Linked DNA regions of Homo sapiens. The protein of the gene in region 4 purifies or fractionates together with the protein of the main gene of each other region. This does not show direct contact. Each region holds a gene or a part of one and is shown on either strand. Other genes may lie near its edges.

The links.
Region 1: the proteins of ATP6V1D (region 4) and XPNPEP1 fractionate together in Homo sapiens (co-fractionation; 2 studies listed by BioGRID). This does not show direct contact.
Region 2: the proteins of ATP6V1D (region 4) and MCMBP fractionate together in Homo sapiens (co-fractionation; one large-scale study listed by BioGRID). This does not show direct contact.
Region 3: the proteins of ATP6V1D (region 4) and ADD1 purify together in Homo sapiens (affinity purification with mass spectrometry; one large-scale study listed by BioGRID and IntAct). This does not show direct contact.

The regions. Positions count from the first base shown.
Region 1 is NC_000010.11:109,863,490-109,868,342, forward strand, and holds the end of XPNPEP1 (xaa-Pro aminopeptidase 1), read right to left. Parts: intron 4,098-4,853; coding exon of another isoform or gene 4,040-4,097; intron 1,824-4,039; coding exon 1,695-1,823; coding exon of another isoform or gene 1,666-1,694; 3' UTR 1,277-1,665; downstream 1-1,276. UniProt on the Homo sapiens protein: Metalloaminopeptidase that catalyzes the removal of a penultimate prolyl residue from the N-termini of peptides, such as Arg-Pro-Pro. Contributes to the degradation of bradykinin.
Region 2 is NC_000010.11:119,837,322-119,842,174, forward strand, and holds part of MCMBP (mini-chromosome maintenance complex-binding protein), read right to left. Parts: intron 3,640-4,853; coding exon 3,522-3,639; intron 1,380-3,521; coding exon 1,214-1,379; intron 1-1,213. UniProt on the Homo sapiens protein: Associated component of the MCM complex that acts as a regulator of DNA replication.
Region 3 is NC_000004.12:2,902,513-2,907,365, reverse strand, and holds part of ADD1 (alpha-adducin), read right to left. Parts: intron 2,603-4,853; coding exon 2,258-2,602; intron 1-2,257. UniProt on the Homo sapiens protein: Membrane-cytoskeleton-associated protein that promotes the assembly of the spectrin-actin network. Binds to calmodulin.
Region 4 is NC_000014.9:67,352,353-67,357,756, forward strand, and holds part of ATP6V1D (V-type proton ATPase subunit D), read right to left. Parts: intron 689-5,404; coding exon 571-688; intron 1-570. UniProt on the Homo sapiens protein: Subunit of the V1 complex of vacuolar(H+)-ATPase (V-ATPase), a multisubunit enzyme composed of a peripheral complex (V1) that hydrolyzes ATP and a membrane integral complex (V0) that translocates protons.

The DNA of each region.
Region 1 (4,853 bases), on a different chromosome or scaffold from region 4:
GAGGGAGTTCAGTACCACTAGACCCACCCTGCAAGAAATGCTTATAGGAGTTCTGCAAAGTACAATGAAAGGACACTAGACAGTAACCCAAAGCAGTATGAAGAAATAAAGATCTCAAGAAAAATAAATACATTGGGCAATTATAAAAACCAGTATTAGTGTACTGATAGCTTGTGATTCCAGTTTTTGTTTTCTATATGATTTAAGACTAATACATTTTTTAAAAAATTATGTCTAAATGCTAGTATTACTGTTTTTAAAAAGTTAATGAGGCTAGTTTTAAAACAATATAACCATACGATGGAATTAAGTCATTAAAAATAATTCAATCTAAAATATTGCCAAGTTAAAAGATAAAATTGTATACGTACAGAATAATTCACTGTTTGTAAATGTGATATGTTCATATATGGCATATTCTTTCATACATACACAAATAATCAGTATTTTAGTAAATTTTGAATACAAAAAAAAAAGGAGTCAGCAAAAAATATAAAGCAGATAATAGTGGTTATATCTAAGGAGTATGTCAGGTTGGATTAATAAAAAAGCAGACCCTAAAACAAGGATTTGCATGTAAATGGTTCATTCAGGATGGTACCAGGAAACACTAATGGGACAGGAAGAAAGTAGGACATGGAAGAGAAGAAAGAAAACAAAGGGTTGGTTATTGAGCAAGTTACCATGGTGGGCAAGTGGGGCTCAATCCCACTGGGAAACCCTGAGTGACAATGTAAGACATACCTCTGATATCTTAGCCAAAGGATGAGGAAGTCTATTTGCCCATCCCATCCCCAAACGTGATGGTCTGAGATCTCAGGGACATTAACTCTCCAACCCTTGGAGCTTGCCCCACATATACAAGTCAAAAGAAATCCTGCAGAATGGGAGTCGCAGGCACTTGTCACAGAATCCTGCCTACAAGTAACGGAACAATGAGAGCTGTGGCCATGTAGGTAAGACACTTGTGGCATCTGCTATAGGGTGAGTTATGGAAAACTGACTTTTGACATAATTTTTATTGTTTTTTGCATAGGAATGACATATTTTAAAATCAGGAAAAAAAACTGAGATAAAAACACCATAATATTAGGTTTTCTAGAGAAAAGAAAAAGCTTACAACTAAGCCCCCAAATGTGCGGGGAGGCCAGGGGTCTCTTCTCAAAGGGGCCCTTCCACCTAGGAAATGTCTGCCACAGAGCCAGCAGCCCTGGAGATCAGCTCACCCGACATGCCGGGGGACAGCACCATGAAGAAAGAGACAGCTAAGACAAAGCACAGTTCTGACATTTTTATTCACTGATCATAAATATAGTCTCATGAGCATTAAGGTGATCATGAATGATGTACTAGCACCTGGAACATGACCATCATGGAGCACTCACTGATTCCCCATCACTGGCCAAAGAAGTCGGGGCATCTTCCTTTCACCAAGTGTTCAACTTTGGAGGGACCCTCCTTCTGGTGCAGCAATTTTATTCTTGGCTTGTTCTCAACAATTAAAAAATCATAAAAGACTGAGTGTTTGCAATAAAATATCAAAGAGGATAAGAAGATTTTCTGTTCTTCTTAAAGTCTAAAGTAAAAAGGGGAGGTAGGGAAGAAGGAAAGGAAAGGGGAAAGATGTCAGGGATCTGCCACGTTTCTTCCTTCCTCCAGAGCATTTTACAAAAACAAAACCGGGGAGGTATTTATTAATGCTGTTTGGAGATGGGTTGCGTCTCTCTGATGAGCCACTCGAGAGCTTCCTGGCGGCCCTGTTTCTGCAATTCCTTCCCAATCACATCCCTGCAGGTCAGGTGGTAATTGTTGAGCCAGTCGCACTGCAGGGAAGAGAAGGACAGACACGGTATTCACCACTACATCTTTAACAACTGGCTACACAGGTCAACAGCAAAGGCCCCCATGTGCTAAGATCACAAGCTGAGAGAAAAGGTGTGCAACACCCTTTCTCCTTACTCACAGGTAAGTATTTTCCTTGTGTTCTGTTTCCCCGGAAATACATAGGACCAGACTTCATGGCTTCTGGTGAAAAGGCTCCCAGAACAGTTTACTATTATAGACAGCAGTCTCTAAGCCAGTAGCTCCTGCTCCCACCTGTGTGGCTTCATTCCCTTAAACCTGAGCCATCCTGGGAGGTGGTAAGTGGGGGAATAGCCCCGGACTCTGTGAGAACTCCTGCTGAGAGAGACACTCGAAGCTGTCCTGCCAACACACTGGGCTACATATCCTATATCCACTGAAAAAGCTGAATAAAAAACTAGGATCAGCCAAGCCCATGGGTGTCTTTTGAGTGTAGCTGCCTAGATGAACCCAAAACCTGCGGTGGTTAAAGACTGTGGTGCAGCAGAATGGCGCTGGGAGTAAACTTAGTTTTCAGACTCTCAACTCAACATGCCACAAGAGCAGGAGACAAAAAAGAGAGTGAAAGGAAGGACCTGCTGGCAGGACTTGGTGCCTGGGCAGGGGCTGATCCACTAGACATGATGGCAAAAGCTCTGAGGCAGGAAAAAGGGTGAACTCTCCTCCTTGGTTGTATACGGGAAAAGGTGAAGTCTGGAGTGAAGCAGGTTTTACCAAGAGGACAACAAGCCACTCTCATCACTGTCTATGGGGGTAGCTGTCTGGAAGCTGATGAGACTGATAGTGCCATGGCTGTGCTTGTCATAAATGAGTCAAAGGCCATTTTGGAGGGCAGCGATGTTACAGAAGTACTGCTTTCAGGGACTACAATCCAGCCAGGTACCAAAGCCCAGCTGGGGTCAGGATGGGCACACAAACCCATTAATTACAAGGGACTGAGGGCAGACAGATAGGGTGGTGTTACCAACTGGCTGTGACCCAGCCAGGGTTCCAATCCCTACTGAGAAGAGCCTAGTAGCCCCTTCTGGGAGTCAGGGAAGTGATGGGGGCAGGGGAGGATGTCAAAAGCAGGCAAACTGCTATGTGTCCACAGCAAGGCCAGCAGGGCTACAAAGCAGCCTACTGTCCAAAGCAGCTCAACAGTAAGGCAACGGCAGCATCCTGGTGTAAGCCTGGGGCCACAGCCAAACGCCCATGGCCCTTTTGGTTGGAAGTAGGGAGGGAAAAGTGGGAGTGTGGACAGCCTCGGTGGAGCCTGAGGAGCAGCACAAGGCCCTGACAGTCTGCAGCTGGCCATATTCATATCTGACCAAGGTCCTTTGCTGCCATCTGGTGATAAGTGATGACGATGCAGACCCAAACCAAAAACTCCCTAAAGTGACTCCAAAATAAAGGCTAAATAGTAAAGGGCAAATGACCAGATATTTTAAAAGCCAGATATTTTAAGAAGACATTATCTGCCCTACAAAGAGTAACTGGCCGAAAGAATAGTTCAATCATGTGGGCATGCAAGGTGCAGCAATGAAACACTGGGTAACACAGATCCCTGGTCTATGTCCAATGTCACGGGAGTAGACTGATTCTCCTTCGAGGAAAAATGGCCTGGCTTAAACTTCCTCATATACTACTTCCCTGGATAAAGGGGAATGTCATATGGGAGAAATGCCTCCTGATGGGTACACTTTATGTGGACAGGAAGGACTGCATGACCTAGAATTACTTGGCAGGAATCCATAGCCTTGGACTTCCAAGAGTGCGAAATGACTTATTACTGGAAAGCCCCTTGCTAAGTCCCTGGAAGCTGTGCCCAAGGGCCATTACAAGAGACACTGGTTCCTATGGGGCAGAGGGATTCTAAGCAGGGTGGGTCCCATGCCCACCTATGTGTTTTCATTTCCTCTCAGCTAAGGCAACACTTACAGGGGCTGGACAAGAGCCCCTGGACACTGGAAGGACTCTTCCTGCTGAAGAGACACACCAGACATTGTGCTGATAGGCTGAGTTTCCTTTTCCATATCCATCTACAAGCTGCATAACCCACCCGGTATCAGCAAGGCCCATGTGGGTCCTGTGAGTGGGAATGTTTAGCTGAACCAAGGGCACGGATGGTTAAGCAGAGGCGCTCAAGCACAGAGGAAAGCTAAGCAGGAAGTGGATGGACTTTCTCATCACCCACCTGTGAACTGGAACAGGCAGAAGAGGCTTCTAGCTGGGAGAATCCCATTCCACAGCTCCTGTGGAAGGGAAGGTCCTTAACCCCCAAAGACCCTTTCCTTTACAGTGTCAAGAACGAGGCCCAAGTGGGCGCCAGTGAGGAAATGTTCCTGCCTTGAGAGGCACTCAAAGGCCATTGGCTGCCTCAGATAACAAAATATTCTTATTCCGAGAGTAACCCACCGTGCTTACCCTGCCTTCGGCTCCCACCAGTCATTTGCTTTTCATTGGAACTTCTGACCCCTGCCTTGCTCTGGAATTTGTGTCCTCCTGGCTTCCAGCTTCCTGGTTTGGGAACTGTTTTGTCTGTCTAGTGCTAACAGTTCCTACCCCATTTCTGACCCTTGTTTCTGCTCTGACCTTGAACATCTGTGTGATTCTTCAGGCCTTTCTCATGTCCCCAGGACTGCCATCTGACCTGGCCTTACCAGTCCAGGGTCTGAAGGAGTTAAGACCCATAACCCTCTGAGCTGGGCAAGTAAGCACTGTTGTGCCCCAGGCTTTGTGAAGGGTTTCACTGCCCCAGAGTGACCACAGTAGTAACCGAGAAGGGCTGGTACTATCTTTCTCCTTGTCTGTGTGAAAACAGGACATACGATAATAGATTTTGCTTTCCATTTCCTTAATGTTTCATGTAACACAAGAAAACAATCTGGTATGTACAGTGGCCAAGAGGCCCCACCATCCATCTGGCTTTTTGTAGGGACACACATAGGCTCATATTTGCTAAACACGCCTCACTGCAGCTATGGAGGAATAGTACAGCCAAACAATGG
Region 2 (4,853 bases), on a different chromosome or scaffold from region 4:
CAGGGCTAAACCAAGGAAACACTAAAACTACCGTCATACATAGATCAGCCTAGTGAATTTTACAGATTTTATATTCCCCTTTGCCTTAAACATGCCCAGTCTACCTCATTTTTTCTTCTACCTTTACCTCTTGAGCTGATCGCCAGCAGTGTATTCTTAATTGTCTTCATTTGAGCACTGGTAAACAATCTGCTTTCTTGTGATTTTATAATATATTCCGCAACTGAGGTTAGTGCAAACCATTTGATCTATTATTTCTCAGACATTCTCTGAAAACCATTTACAAACTTTACAACGGGAGGTTAAAACATAATTAGCCAGGCGTGATGGCGGGTGCCTGTAGTCCCAGCTACTCGGGAGGCTGAGGCAGGAGAATGGTGTGAACCCGGGAGTTGGAGGTTGCAGTGAGCCAAGATTGGCCACTGCACTCCAGCCTGGGCGACAGAGCAAGACTCCGTCTCAAAACAAAAAAAAAATTATATTAGATCTTTTCTACACTTCCCTTTTGAGGTATTAGATGACTAAAGGCAAAGCTTCCTCCCATTTCAGCTTTTTAAAAAGCTATTTGGGGCAGGTGCAGTGGCTCACACCTGTAATCCCAGCACTGTGGGAGGCCAAGGCAGGAGGATCACTTGAGCCCAGGAATTCAAGATCAGCTGGGCAACATAGCGAGACCCTGTCTCTACCATTCCTTACACTCACTGAAAAAAAAATTTTAGGTTATATACAACTACGCAAAAGAACCCAACACTGTAGGCCCATAAAGACTGCTCCAACCATTCGCTGACACAATAAAACTTTTCACCAAAGAACCCTTACGACCCTCAACATCTAATACTACCCTTTATATTACTGCTCCATTATACTAATACTACCCTTTATATTATTGCTCCATTATATAATATATAAAATATATAATATATGATATATATTAAATGAGACATTATATATTATATATGATATATATTATATAAGATATATTATATAAGATATATATCTGTTCCATTGTACTACTTTCAGAATACTATGGCAAAACATAGTTGGTGTATATAATTAGTTTATAACATATGCTTTAATCAAATTCATATGCCAAGCCTTTATCTTACGTTGTTAAATGTGAATTTGTCCATAGATACTCTTCTAAAAGTTATTCCTAGATCTGGCTTTAGTGCGAAGGAAGTCAGAAATGGAAGAGAAACATCTATGTACGTACCTGGGGTATCCAGCTGCCCCTGTTCCAGGAGAGTCTCATCGATTACAAGGGAAGTATTGCTGGGCAGCTGGAGGAGCCCACTGACCAAGCGATTGGCTGTGTAGTCTTTGTGGGGAATGAATTTCAAATGGTTCATGTTCTCTATAGTCATCTGCAGACGAAAAGACTGCAAAGAGAAATTTTTTAGTGAACAAGAATTTAAGTTTCCCTGTTTTAAGAAAATATGTACTTGGAATTAAACATTGTGTTTCATATGGAAAAAGTGATCTTATAAATTTCTAAGGGAGTAGTGATATGGTTTCTTGAACTCCAGAAGCAAAAATAGTATCTAGATCTTACATTTGAATTTCATCCATTTTATGAGCTACTTTATTCTCAAATGTCTTGTTCAATATTCTTGAAAATCAATTTTAATTTAACCAATGAAACAAATGGTAGATAACTGACATATAAATATTAAATACCCCAAAACCTAACCTCTTTCACCTAACACAAGCTAGCTAGCAAAAAGAAAATGTTAATTTTACTCTTCAAGACAGGGAGAGAAAAGCTTAATTTTCCTCTATATTCTTTGAGTTAAAATTGTATTCATTTATCATAGACATTTTTGAACAAACTTTTCAGAGAAAAATCAAGGAGCAGAGCACACTGAGCTGTGGATGGACCTGCAGCTCTCAGGAGGTGCCTCCAGGACGCGAGCACCTTCTCACTCAGTGTTTAACGAGTAAGCGAACCATCTATGCTCCTCCTCCAGCTCTTGAGCCACCATTCCCAACACCCTCTGTGCTCTGCCTTATACACCAATCCATTCTTCCATCCCTCCAGCCTCAAACAATGTGGCAGGGATGGAGAAGAGGGTATGGTGGGGGAAGGCTGTCAAGGAAGAGGTAAGATATATTGCGAAAATTTAGAGGAGTTTTGTGTATTACCTCAGTGATTCTAAGAAAACGGGGAGCTTAGGGGTGCTTAAATGACCTACCATGTATTAATTTATTTGTTGGTCTTCTACCTAAACTCTGTGAGGGCAAAGGATCTGTTTCAATAATTCTCAAAATGTGGTCCCGAGAACCCCCAGGGAATTGCTTAAACCCTTTTACAGGGTCAATCAGGTCAAAATCATGCATGGATAAAAGATCCTTTCAATGTGCGAGACTAATGAATTTTACCATAGCAGACTATGGAAAGTTTACGAATAGGATTTCAGATTCCACACTTAACTATCTTTAAGAAAATCTCATGTGGACAGTTTTGGTCTAGTATCAAAGACCACCACCCAGTTATCTGCAAAGGCTATCGAAACCATCCTTCCTTTACCATCTACTTTTCCATCTGTGTGAGGCCAGCTTTCCTTCATATACTTCAACCAAAACCTGAGACTACAATAGACTGAAGGCAGAAGCAGATACAAGCATCCATTGTCTCCTATTAATCCAGACATTGAAGAGATTTGCAAGAATGTAAAACAATGTCACCTTTATCACTAATCATTTTTGGCTTGGGAAAAGTTGTTTTTATAAAAATATTTATATGTAATTTTTTATTTTTAATAGGTGTATTTACTTTATCTTCTAGTTTGGTAAATTAATGATAAATATAATCATAACGTGAAAAACAGCTCTTTGAGTATGAACACATTTTTCAGAGTGTAAAGTGAGTCTAAGGAGACTGAGAACTGCTGGTATATTCCAGTCCACTTCTGCTTCTTGAGGGCCTGGACGAGTGTTAGCACTGAGACACTGAATACATTCGGTTCAATAAAGATCTAGTGCACCCTCTTCAATTTCCAAAGAAGTGATCAGTATTTTCAGTCACACAACTAATCAGAAGCAATTCCCCTGTTCCCAAGATCCTACCACCACGCAAATACTGCATTCCAGATACCCTGGCAAATAAAGTGAGCTCAACTTTCCAAACAGGAATTAAAATTGAGGCAATGGAGATAAAGAACTTTATTACCTCAACTAAAAGAATTATGCTCCTACAATTTAGAGTTTATTTAGATTTAAGACTTTAGTGTACAAAAAGGATACCAAATTGGACAAATTGGTATCAAGAGAGTGTAATTTTAAGGGAGTTACTACAATTGTTTTGTTAGACTTACAGAAATTTGTGCTTAGGCAAAAAGACAAAAAAAAGTGAAATGTTTAGGGGAACGTACATTTTAAATTATGTAATTTGGCAGGCTTTGTTTCCCCTTAAATAAGATCTATTAAAATCTCTAAGTTAAATATTTGAAGTGAATGAAAGACAGTTAGATGGATTTTTTAAGTGTGCTTAGGTTTATAATACATATTTATATTCATCTTACTGCTGGAACAAGATGTTGAATAATTCGATACAAGTGTTCTGTGAAGGTACTATTCCGTGGGCAACCACTCAAGTTAACTGTAAATTTTCCTAGTGGAAGGACATCTCTTCTTGTATATCTAGAAAAGAAAGAAATCAATCAATAAGATGCTGAAGTGACTTCCTGATTTCTATCAAATAGCGAAGAATAGAAAAATTAGCTTAATATTGTCATTAAAAATAAACCAGAATATTCTGACCAGTTATTTTATCAGAATAACAGCAATAAAAGTAATAGCCAATATTTGTACGTAAGTGCTGCTGGTCACGTGCCAAAGACCGTTCTGAGTATGTAAATGCTTCCTCATTTAACCCCTAACCATTCAGCGGTAGGTGCTGTTGTCTTTGCTTCACAGATGAGAAATCCGAGGCACAGAGATGATAATAAGCAACATGTTCATCTAAATGGAAGCTGACAGAGCTGGGATATGAATCCGGGTAGTTTGGTTCCAGAGCCTGTGCTCTCAACCATTATGTACTACTGTCACAGACTGATTTGAGAAAAGATAAGATTTACAGCACAAAGATGTTTCCTGCAACTTTATAATAGAGAAAAGCTAGGAAAAGCTAACATTTAGGGAAATGGTTACAGTATGGTACAACTGCATAGTGAAATACTTTGCAGCCACTACAAAGTTCATGAAGCATTATGATGGGAAAATGTTTAATATATATCAACTGCTGAAAACAAGACACGCATCTGTGCTTAGAGTGTAACTAAGACCTATGCAAGGATGTATACATATGTAAACAAAAACCAATGAACATGTACCTAAAGGTTAACGGAGGTTCTAAGTGGTGAAATTACAGATGATGTGCATTTTCCTCCTTATGTTCTTGGAACTTGTCAAAGGCCCACACTAGTTTTAAAATGAGAAACAAAGAAATACAGTGGAGTCAAGGGATGCGGTGCTAGTGTCAATGTCCACGTTAAACGTGCACATGACGTGGGCGCCTTGGGATGTATAAACAGAGCGTTCAGAATGCAAAAGGGATAAAACAGCTCATTTTACTCATCAGCCAGGTCCTTTATCTCAGGGGTCCCCAACGCCCAGGCCGTGGACCAGTACTGGTTCATGGCCTGTTAGGAACCGGGCCACAACATAGGAGGTGAGGGGTGGATGAGTGGGCATTACCGCCTGAGTTCCGCCTCCTGTCAGATCAGCAGTGGCATCAGACTCTCACAGGAGCGCGAACCCTATTGTGAACTGCACATCTGTGTGTTCCCTATGAGAATCTAACTAATGCCTGATGTTCTGAGGTGGAACGGTTTCATACTGAAACCATCCCCACT
Region 3 (4,853 bases), on a different chromosome or scaffold from region 4:
GCATGAGATGACAGGGTCATGAAAAGCAATGTGATGCTGCTACCCAGGGTTAGGGAGGAGCCTGCACCGTGAGGCAAGAGTGGGCATCACCAAAGTTTTGCATTAAAGTAAATGACAGCATCAGAATGCACTGTCTGCGTAACTTTCAACCCAAGAACATTACTGTATGGACACTTACACGGTAGCTACCTGGAAGAAGAGTTTGGTGATGTCGAATATTTTATATAACTTAATATTTTTGAGTGCTACAAAAATATCCCAAACAAACTTGAAGCGCTTCATGAGTCCTTAATATTTAAAGGCTGTTTTAGTATCAGTGCATCTCGTCAGCATGCTGAGCCTTCCACCCATAATTTTTTTTTGGATCTCCAATCAAATCTGAGATTTTTAATCAAATTCTAAGGCATGAGTAGGCACTGAACATTAAAACAAGCCCATCTTCGAGAGCAAATGTTATGCCTTTCAGAATACTTTCGAGAGGCAATAAGATAGCCATAAACCATACGACTTTAAAAAAAGCAACAAAACCAGCAAATGCTGAGCCACTGCGAGGAGAGTGTGGAATGGGCATGGAGCTCTGGGTACTCACTGATGGTTATCTTCTCAGATAAAAACAACTCCAGCGTTTTATTAAAAATAATTTTTAGTCAAAGCATTTCAAACAGCAACCTCAGAAACTTGAACACATTTGAAAAAGTAACAGCAATCATTATAAATGAAAAGATACCAACCTGGGAGCACTGCATGGACTCTGTCACTCCAGAACAGTAAGAAACAAATATAAATGCGGAGCAAGGCCTCCCCTTGGATGTACACATTGACTACTAGGCCTAAAGTGACTTAGTTGTTTTGCAAGCTAATGGTAAATAAAGCTCGCGCTGCTGCCTAAACGCTTTGGAAAACTTCCTCATGGCAATTCAGCACTGTGCTTCACATCAGCCGCAGAAAGGTGTTTTGGGGTTTTTTTTTTTTGTTTTATAACGCCCACTTCCTTTAACAAGTGAAACAAGTAAAAAATAAACAAATGAAAGAAAAGGGGAGACAGGAAGAAGGGGGGAAAGAAGACAAGGAGGGCAGGAAAGAAGAGGAGAGACGCACTCCCATGCTCAGAGCCCCATGGCCACACAGGGTCCCTGCCCAGGTGACGCGGCCGCTCAGGAGCACGGAGGCTTCTCACCAACTGCGTCAGGAAAACACCAGGACCACCTGGGGAAGATAAAACTTTTTTTCTTTAAATAAATCTATAAAGTAAAACACTGTTACAAGGGGAAAAGAAAGCCCCACTTTATGTATTTGGTTGCCCATGGTTTTAGGAGCATCTAATCTAATTTCAACTGAACTCCTAATGAACTAGTCATGCACAGATGAGTCTGCTTCAGCCCCTGTCTCCTCCATTCCAGGGGCTTCTGGAAATGGGCCTCTTCTACATACAGTTTAAAGCAGAGCTGGGTGGACTGTTAGAGGTAGGTTACAGGAGGAATAAAGACCCATCTTCAGAGGAGGTCTCAGCACCACGACATGGGAGCACCTCTCAGGACAAACGATAACTTGAGCGGCATTAACGCTGAAACGAAGCACCCCTTGCAGCGTCTGTCGCTGGTGCCTGCAGATGGCCTGCGCTGCACTTGGGTCATGCCGCACCCAACAGGAGTCAGAAGGTGACTCGCCACTATGGCCGTCTACTCACATGCAACAGTCCATGCAGAGGGCAGCTGGGGGTGTGCATTCGGAGGCTTTGGGATAGAAAGCAGGGGAATAACACTAAGGGCAGGGGACAAGAGTCAGCAGAGAACACGCCAGGGAGCCACAAGGGAAAACTGCTTAAGAAAACACTGAAGACTTAAGAAACTTTAGTGACTTGAAACCACTGGAGTTCACAACACTAAAATACAGGTTTAGGACTGAAGTGTCTTTTTGTGCATGAAGTATTAAGAGTCCCTGAATATAATTTGAATTAAATAAGAAGAGCTCCTATTTGTAGGTTAATACATGTAAATTATTGTATATTTTTGCTATATACGGAGATATACTGGAACTACTGCGGAGTTACATTACATCTTAAGCAGTTTCAAGCAGATAGTATTATCCGAATTTTAGTAATGCATTCAGTGGACTTAGGTTCAGACTACAAGAAAGTGAATAAGGAAGGTTCGCTTTACACCTGGGTCAGAAAGGCTGGATTCCCAAAGCCTCCGAAGCCCCAGCTACCCAACTTGCTCTACGTCATCTAACTATGAACAGTAAGGTAGGCACAGACCAAGCAGTTGGTAATACAGCTTGGCACGCAGACACCGGACGAGAGAGACTGCAGCAAGGGTTTCACGTGATCGTGTGTAATGTTCGTCCACACCTTAGTCTTCGACTTGGGACTGCTTCCATTCTGCCCTTCCTCGGAAGCTTCGTCGCCCCGGCCAGAGTTCAGCCATCTTGTCTTCTCCCGCTGCTGCTTCTGAAAACTGTGTCTGAGTGGGGAGCAAGTGCCCGAATCACCGTCACTAGCAAAGGAGTAACCTGTGACACTAGCAGGAACCTCCACATCGCTGTATTTTTTAGACTTCTCTCTCAGAGCAGGGTATCGATAAGGGTAGCCAGTTCTGTAGCCCTAGGGTCCAAGGAGAGTGAAAGACAGTCAATATTCCAGATCTCAAAACAGGGTTTCACTTTGGAAAATCATGTGGAAACATCCACAAAAGTTGAACACATGCATACCCTATGACTCAGTAATTCCACTCCTAATTTTACACCCCACAGAAGCAAATGTGTTCACCAAAAACCAGGTACTAAAATGTGGACAGCAACCCTACTCCTCGTAAACCACAATTGGAAACAACCCAAAAGTCCATCCATATAGGAGATGGATAGTCTAGTGTCTTCATAAGAAGGCTTATAGTGACACAATGTGCTCTAAACCAACCACGTGGATGACTCTCCTGAAGGCAACGCTGAGTGAAAGAGACCAACCTGCAAAGAACATACACCATGTAATACCATTCATTAAAAGTGCAGAAGATGCAAAACAACCTTTGTTTTGGTTGTCCTGGGAGACAGGACAGTTGTCACCCCTGGGATGGGACAAGTGAACTGAAGGAGGTGCTGGGGGTGTTCTGAGGTGCTGCTACCGTTGCTCTTATTGACTGCTGGTTATACAGGGGGTTCAGTTTTTAAAAATGAACAAACTGAACACTTGCGGTAGGTGCACTCTCCTGCTTACATATTTCAACAAAAAATTAAAGTTGAACACCCAAACAGGGTTTACTTGCTGCCAGCCACTGTGCAGGTTATATTCATCAACATACTTAATAGACTTTTACCTCTTAAGTTACAGTTTAAATACTGTGATAATCTTTAGGTAAGTAAGGTAAGTAAGTATACCTCATGACAACTGGTTCTCAGCAAAATTACTTTACGTCTGAATACAACAACATTCAAATTCACCTCCAGCTCTGCCTCATGACCATGTGCTCTGTGGTAAAAGACAGCCCCACTTACTTCATGCCTCTACTGGACCAACTCATCTGCAGAGTCCTCCCACAGACAGCATCTCTAAGGGCATGGACGGTGTCCTCTGCATCTCTCCTGGCCACACTTGGTAAGTGTGACAGACAGACTTCACAGTGGCCCCAGGCCCCCAGCTCCTGTAATCCCCTCCCACCTTGAGCACAGGTGAGATCTCTGACTTGCTTCTAAGTAGCGGAATTCACAAAAGGTGATGATGGGCTGTATCACAGAAGAGTTTAGCACCTATCTTATAAGAGTCTCTGTCTCTACTGCTGGCTCTGAAGAAGTAAAGCTGCCAAGAATGCTTCAGCCCTAAGAAAAGGAATTCTGTCCCCAGTCTAGAAGAGCCTGGATGTGGATCCTCTGAGTCAAGTCTCCTGATGAGAACCCAGCCCTAGCCAACACCCTGAATGCAGCCTTTATGAGACCCTAGGTTGAGTTCGCTGTGCCTGGACTCCTGCCCCACAGAAGCTAGGAAATAAATGGCTGCTGTTCGAAGCCACCAGGCCTGTAGTGATTTGTTGCCCAGCACAGAGAGGTAATACGGGGGATGCTGAAGAGCTGTCTGCTCAACAACCTAACAGATTCGCACCTGAACCAAGTCACTCACAGCACCTTCACAATACATCACAAGAGAATCAGGACTTGGAGGGACTGCACAGGGTCAGACATACAAGACACTTCAGTGGCCTGTGCCCTGCTGGCTGTGGTACTCTAGAAACAGTCCTCTCAATTCAGAATTCTCTCTCCCCTCTGGGTACTGCTCTTTTTTGGGGGCCATCTTCATTACTAATCACTCTTTCAATATTTTTTTTATTTTTTTAATTTAATTTTTTTTTTTTGAGACAGAGTCTCACTCCATTGCCCAGGCTGGAGTGCAGTGGCGCCATCTTGGCTCACTGCAACCTCCGCCTCCCAGGTTCACACTATTCTCCTGCCTCAGCCTCCTGAATAGCTGGGACCACAGGCACGTGCCACCACACCCGGCTAATTTTTTGCATTTTTAGTAGAGACGGAGTTTCACTGTATTAGCCAGGACGGTCTCAATCTCCTGACCTCATGACCCACCTGCCTCAGCCTCCCAAAGTGCTGGGATTATAGATATGAGCCACCACGCCCGGCCTCCTTTTATTTTTTTGAGATGGAGTCTTGCTCTGTCACCCAGGCTGAAGTGCTGTGGCTCGACCTTGGCTCACTGCAACCTCTGCCTCCCGGGTTCAAGTGCTTCTTCTACCTCAGCCTCCCGAGTAGCTGGGATTACAGGCACCCTCCACCACACCTGGCTAATTTTTGTAGAGAAGGGGTTTCACCATGTTGGCCAGGCTGGTCTTGAACTCCTGACTTCAGGTGATCCA
Region 4 (5,404 bases):
CACAGCTACTCGAGAGGCTGAGGTGGGAGGATCACTGGAGCCCAGTTTGAGGCTGCAGAGTAAGACCTTGCCTCAAAAAAAAAAAAAAAAGAAAAAGACTAGAAATAAAATGTCATACCATGCGGTAGTACATGCTACAATAAAATTAAAATAAGGAATTGTGAGAGAAGCAAACATGGTGTTCACTTTAGATTGGGTGATCAGGAACAGCCTCTCTTAAGAGACTAGAACAGCTAAAGGAGCCAGTTATAAGTTCTGGGGAAAGAGTATTTCAGGCAGGAGAAAGAGCTAATGAAAAGTACCTGGAGGACCTTAGGAAGAATGCTCTAAATAAGGTAAGAGAGGCAGGCGGGGGGCCAATCAGATCAAGTGGAGCTTTGCAGGCAAGATTAAAGAGTTTGGATTTTATTAAATGAACTATTTGATATTTGACACTTGTTAAACTTATAATGGTATTTTTACTTTTGAAAGAAAAAAATTAATTAAAATAACAACAACAAAAAAAAAAATGCCAAGGGCCATGCTGGATTTTTCTAAAATAAATACTATTCTAAGAAAAGTTCATTCTACCTCTATTATCTTCTTTAGGATCTGTCGAAATCGAAGAGTTAAGGCATCAGATTTTTTCTTCAGGAGGTTTCGACCTGTCTGTGCTCCCTTTAAACGAGCCTTCATGATGGTCTGTGCCCTATATAAACATAAACAAAGTTAAGACATCTATTCTCATTGTTTAAAAGACAAAAAAAACCCTCCCCACCAGTGTTAAAATTATCCTTTATCCTTTGATGTGATGAAAGTGAGACTATATAGAGAATTTGTAGCTGACAGGTTTAACTGATGCTATGGTTTGAATATGTCCCTAATCTTCATGTGTTGGAAACAATCTCCAATGCAACAATGTTGGGAGGTGGGACCATCAAGAGATGACTGGGTCATCTGGGATCTGCCCTCCATGAATGGATTAACGTCATTATGGTAAGACTGGGTTCCTTATTGCAGGAGTGGGTTGGTTTTAAATGTGAGTTCATCTGGGTACACCTGTAATCCCAGCTACAGGTGTAAGTGGGAGGATCCCTTGAGCCTGGGAGTTCAAGTCCAGCATGGGTAAGATAGTAGCAAGACTCCTTTTGTTGTTGTTGTTGTTGTTGTTTTTGAGATGGAGTCTCACTGTGAGGCCCAGGCTGGAGTGCAATGGCGCGATCTCGACTCATTGCAACCTCCACCTCCCAGGTTCAAGCAATTCTCCCACCCCAGCCTCCCAAGTAGCTAGAACTACAGGCGTATGCCACCAAGCCCAGCTATATTTTTTTGTATTTTTAGTAGAGACAGGGTTTCACCATACTGACCAGGCTCATCTCGAACTCTTGACTTTAAGTGATCTGCCTGCTTCAGCCTCCCAAAGTACTGGGATTACAGGGATGAGCCACCATGCCCGGCCCGACTCCTTATTTTTTGAGATGGGGTCTTGCTCTGTCACCCAGGCTGGATTGCAGTGGTATGATCATAGCTTGCTGCAGCCTCTAACTCCTGGTCTCATGAAATCCTCCAGCCTCAGCTTCCCAAAGTGCTGGGATTATGGGCATGAACCACTGCACCTGACCCTGTCCCTTTAGAAAAAAAAAAAAAGGCATGTTCGACCCTTTCTTGCTTTCTCTCTCACCCTCGCCTTCTGCCATGGGATAACACAGCAAGAAGGCCCTCACCCTTCTCAGCCTCCAGAACCATGAACCAAATAAATTTTTTTCTTTATAAATTACCCAGTCTCAAGTATTGTTATAGCAGCAGAAAATGGACTAAGACAACTGGTTTTCCAATAATGTAGATTTCTACCATCAGTGTTCCATAAATGAAAAGTTTATTAATTTACAACAGAAACAATTTTATAATCAATATCTGGAATATTTATTAAATCATCATAAATGTTATCAGGAGCCTTATTTTATGATGCCAACATAGTTTAAATACTTATTTGATTTGTAAGTTAAAATAATATCTTTGTTTTAGTTTCCACTGGAGGTATATTAAGGATTTAAAAATCTATCCACTAATATATATCAAAATTTTAAATGCAATTATTTTCAAGACCAACAATTCCACTTTGCGGAATTTATCCTACAAATTTATTCCCACATGTGTACAAAAACACGTGCAAGGTTTAAAAGATGGGTACTCCAGCCTTATGGTAATAGCAAAAGGGAGAAACAAGCTAAATGCTAAATACATCAGAGTTCACCTATGATGGAATGATATACAGTCATTAAAAAAGACGAAGGTATATAGGCATGTGCTGTCTATATAACAGTCTTATTTATGCAAAGTAAGGAAAAAATGTGCTTATATAGATGCAGAGAATAGTTCTAGAAAGGATTCACAAAAACTGGCAAGAGTTACCTTTGATAAATGGGACTGGATGAAAAATATGGATTTACTTTTTACTACTATATTCTTTTGTACCTTTTGCATTTTATTTTATTTTTTGAGGTGAAGTTTCACTCTTGTTGCCCAGGCTAGAGTGCAATGGCGCGATCTCGGCTCACTGCAACCTCTGCCTCCCAGGTTCAAGCGATTCTCCTGCCTCAGCATCCCGAGTAGCTGGGATTACAGGCATGCGTCACCATGCCTGGCTAATTTTTTATTTTTAGTAGAGACAGGTTTCTCCATGTTGGTCAGGCTGGTCTCGAACTCCTGACCTCAGGTGATCCGCCCACCTCGGCCTCACAAAGTGCTAGGATTACAGGCATGAGCCACCGCACCTGGCCTGCATTTTTTATACCACAATAATTTACCACATTTTCTATTAAAAGTGTGGTATTAACATGTTTTGATATCATCAATCAAGATCCTAACAGCAATCATTTTATTAATTTGTAAAAGACTAGGTAACAAATGACATACGTAAGATTCCTGAGAAATGACAAGCTAAATTTACACTGAAGTCTCCTCACTTCCTTGTTTCAATTTTTTTCCCCATCAGAAGCCCCAATACCAAAGTCAAGCAGAAACTGACATTTCTGTTCTTGCTGCCATATGCCAGATACAATTTAATAATGAAAAAAGTGGAGCCCAGTTCGAGGATGTAGAAGTAAGACCCTGTCTCAAAAAAAAAAAAAAAAAAAAAAAAAAAAAAAGACTAGAAATAAAATGTCATACCATGCAGTAGTACATGCTACAATAAAATTAAAATAAGGAATTATGACAGAAGCAAACATGGTGTTCACTTTAGATTGGGTGATCAGGAACAGCCTCTCTTAAGAGACTAGAACAGCCAAAGGAGCCAGTTATAAGTTCCGGGGAAAGAGTATTTCAGGCAGGAAAAAGAGCTAATGAAAAGTACCTGGAGGACCTTAGGAAGAATGCTCTAAATAAGGTAAGTGGTACAGTGGCTTATGTCTATAATCAGCACTTTGGGAGGCTAAGGTGGGTAGATTGCTTGAGTTCAAGACCAGCCTGGGAAACAAGGTGAAACCCTGTCTCTACAAAAAAAAAAAAATATCAAAATTACCTGGGCATGGTAGGGCACACCGGTAATCCCATATACAAAGAAGGCTAAGGTGAGAGGACTGATTGAGCCCAGGAGGTTGAGGCAGTGAGCTGTGATCATGCCACTGCACTGCAGCCTGGACAACAGAGCAAGACTCGGTCTCAAAAAAACAAGTGTTTGGGTAATAAAATTCAACAATAAGGTTGTATAACCTAGACACAGTATAACCTAGACACAGTGATTTAAGGGGATATAATTTCATATGACTGGTGTTTTAAAATCGCATGTACTAATAAACTTTTTTGGCCAGGTGCAGTGGCTCACACCTGTAATACCAACACTTTGGGAGGCCGAGGCAGGTGGATAACTTGAGGTCAGGAGTTCGAGACCACCCTGGCCAACATAGTGAAACCCCATCTCTACCAAAAAATACAAAAATTAGCTGGGTATGGTGCTGCATCCCTGTGGTCCCAGCTACTCAGGAGTCTGAGGCACAAAAATCACTTGAACCTGGCAGGCAGAGGTTGCAGTGAGCCAAGATCGGGTCACTGCACTCCAGCCTGGGCAACAGAGGGAAAACCTGCCTCAAAAAAACAAAAACAAAAAAAAAAAAACAAAAACAAACAAACACCATTTGGCCAAATTCTTAAATTATACTGGAATCTTTTACCATAGGGCTAAGATCACTAAGACAATTCTATAGCTGAAAGGGACTTTAGACATTAACTTAAAGATTAGAAAAATGAGGCTTAGAAAAGTAAAACAACTTTCTCAAAGTTACTCAGTGAAGAAAAGGCAGGGCAGGGACTTGAACCAGACTTTTGATTCCACTGACTTTCCCAATGCTCAAACTAAGGCTCCAACCTACGTTCACTGTACCCCAAACATGTGCCTCCCCTTAAAGAGAACAATTATCACTGGCTGACTCTGCACTGACTGGTCTCACAAGAGGTCTTATCAAGTGAAGGTCGTTTAGTTTCCAGCCTGAGAAGGAGCTATCCATCTCAATGTGTGCATTTAACATAATGTATTGTTGATAGTAAATACTAGAACTTGGGCTCAAAGAGCTGGATCAAATTTAAGTCAAATTGTAGTACTGCATATTCCAGCCAGTTTATAGTAAAAGGTAAACTGGTTGATAAAATTGAATTTACCATGTTAATTTTATTTTCCTCCTAGGGAATGGCATCTTTGTGAAATGGGCAATTTTAATTCCTGAAACTCTAAGAGCAGCGTGCACACTTACAGCTAATATGTAGCAGAACCTGGATTTAGTGGACTTCTGTTGACTCCAAATTTTTCATGCGTCTTTTACTTCCACTCTACAATTGTTTTTGCTTTCTCTGGTACGAAAGTGGGTGAAAGTAACATCACAGAATAATACTGTTGAATGGAAATGTCTGTGAAACAAGCTGCCAGTATATTTTCTAGCCTATGGCTTTTAAAACTTGCTCCTTTACATGTTTCAGAGCTGCTCAGTCCTACTCAAAAAGTTTGACCTTTAGCTAGGATGATGACTTTTCTTCCAGCTGAATCAAAGACATCTGACTACATGACAAAAAGCCTGCTGCCAGCCATGGGGAAAATATTTAGAGAAGAGATTATTTCCTGCACCTGATTTTCCTCTCAATCAGCAAGCTGAGAGCTTTCAAATAGTAGTTTCACCTTCATGAGCCTATCATTTTCTTACCTAAGCCCAAAGATGTCTATTTTTGCCTCTTAGTCTCAAAGTAAAAGTTTCAAAGTAAAAACAAAAAAGTTATTCTGACTGCTGTCAAAGATAAACCCAGCCAGACATTCGTTAAAGTAGTGAAAACAGATTTTATTCAGTAAACCACTGATAGTAGGGGAAAGGGCTGAGCTCAATTCTCATTTGTGCAGAGGTGACTGGCCATTTTAAAAAAGAGAGTAAGGGAGTGGCAG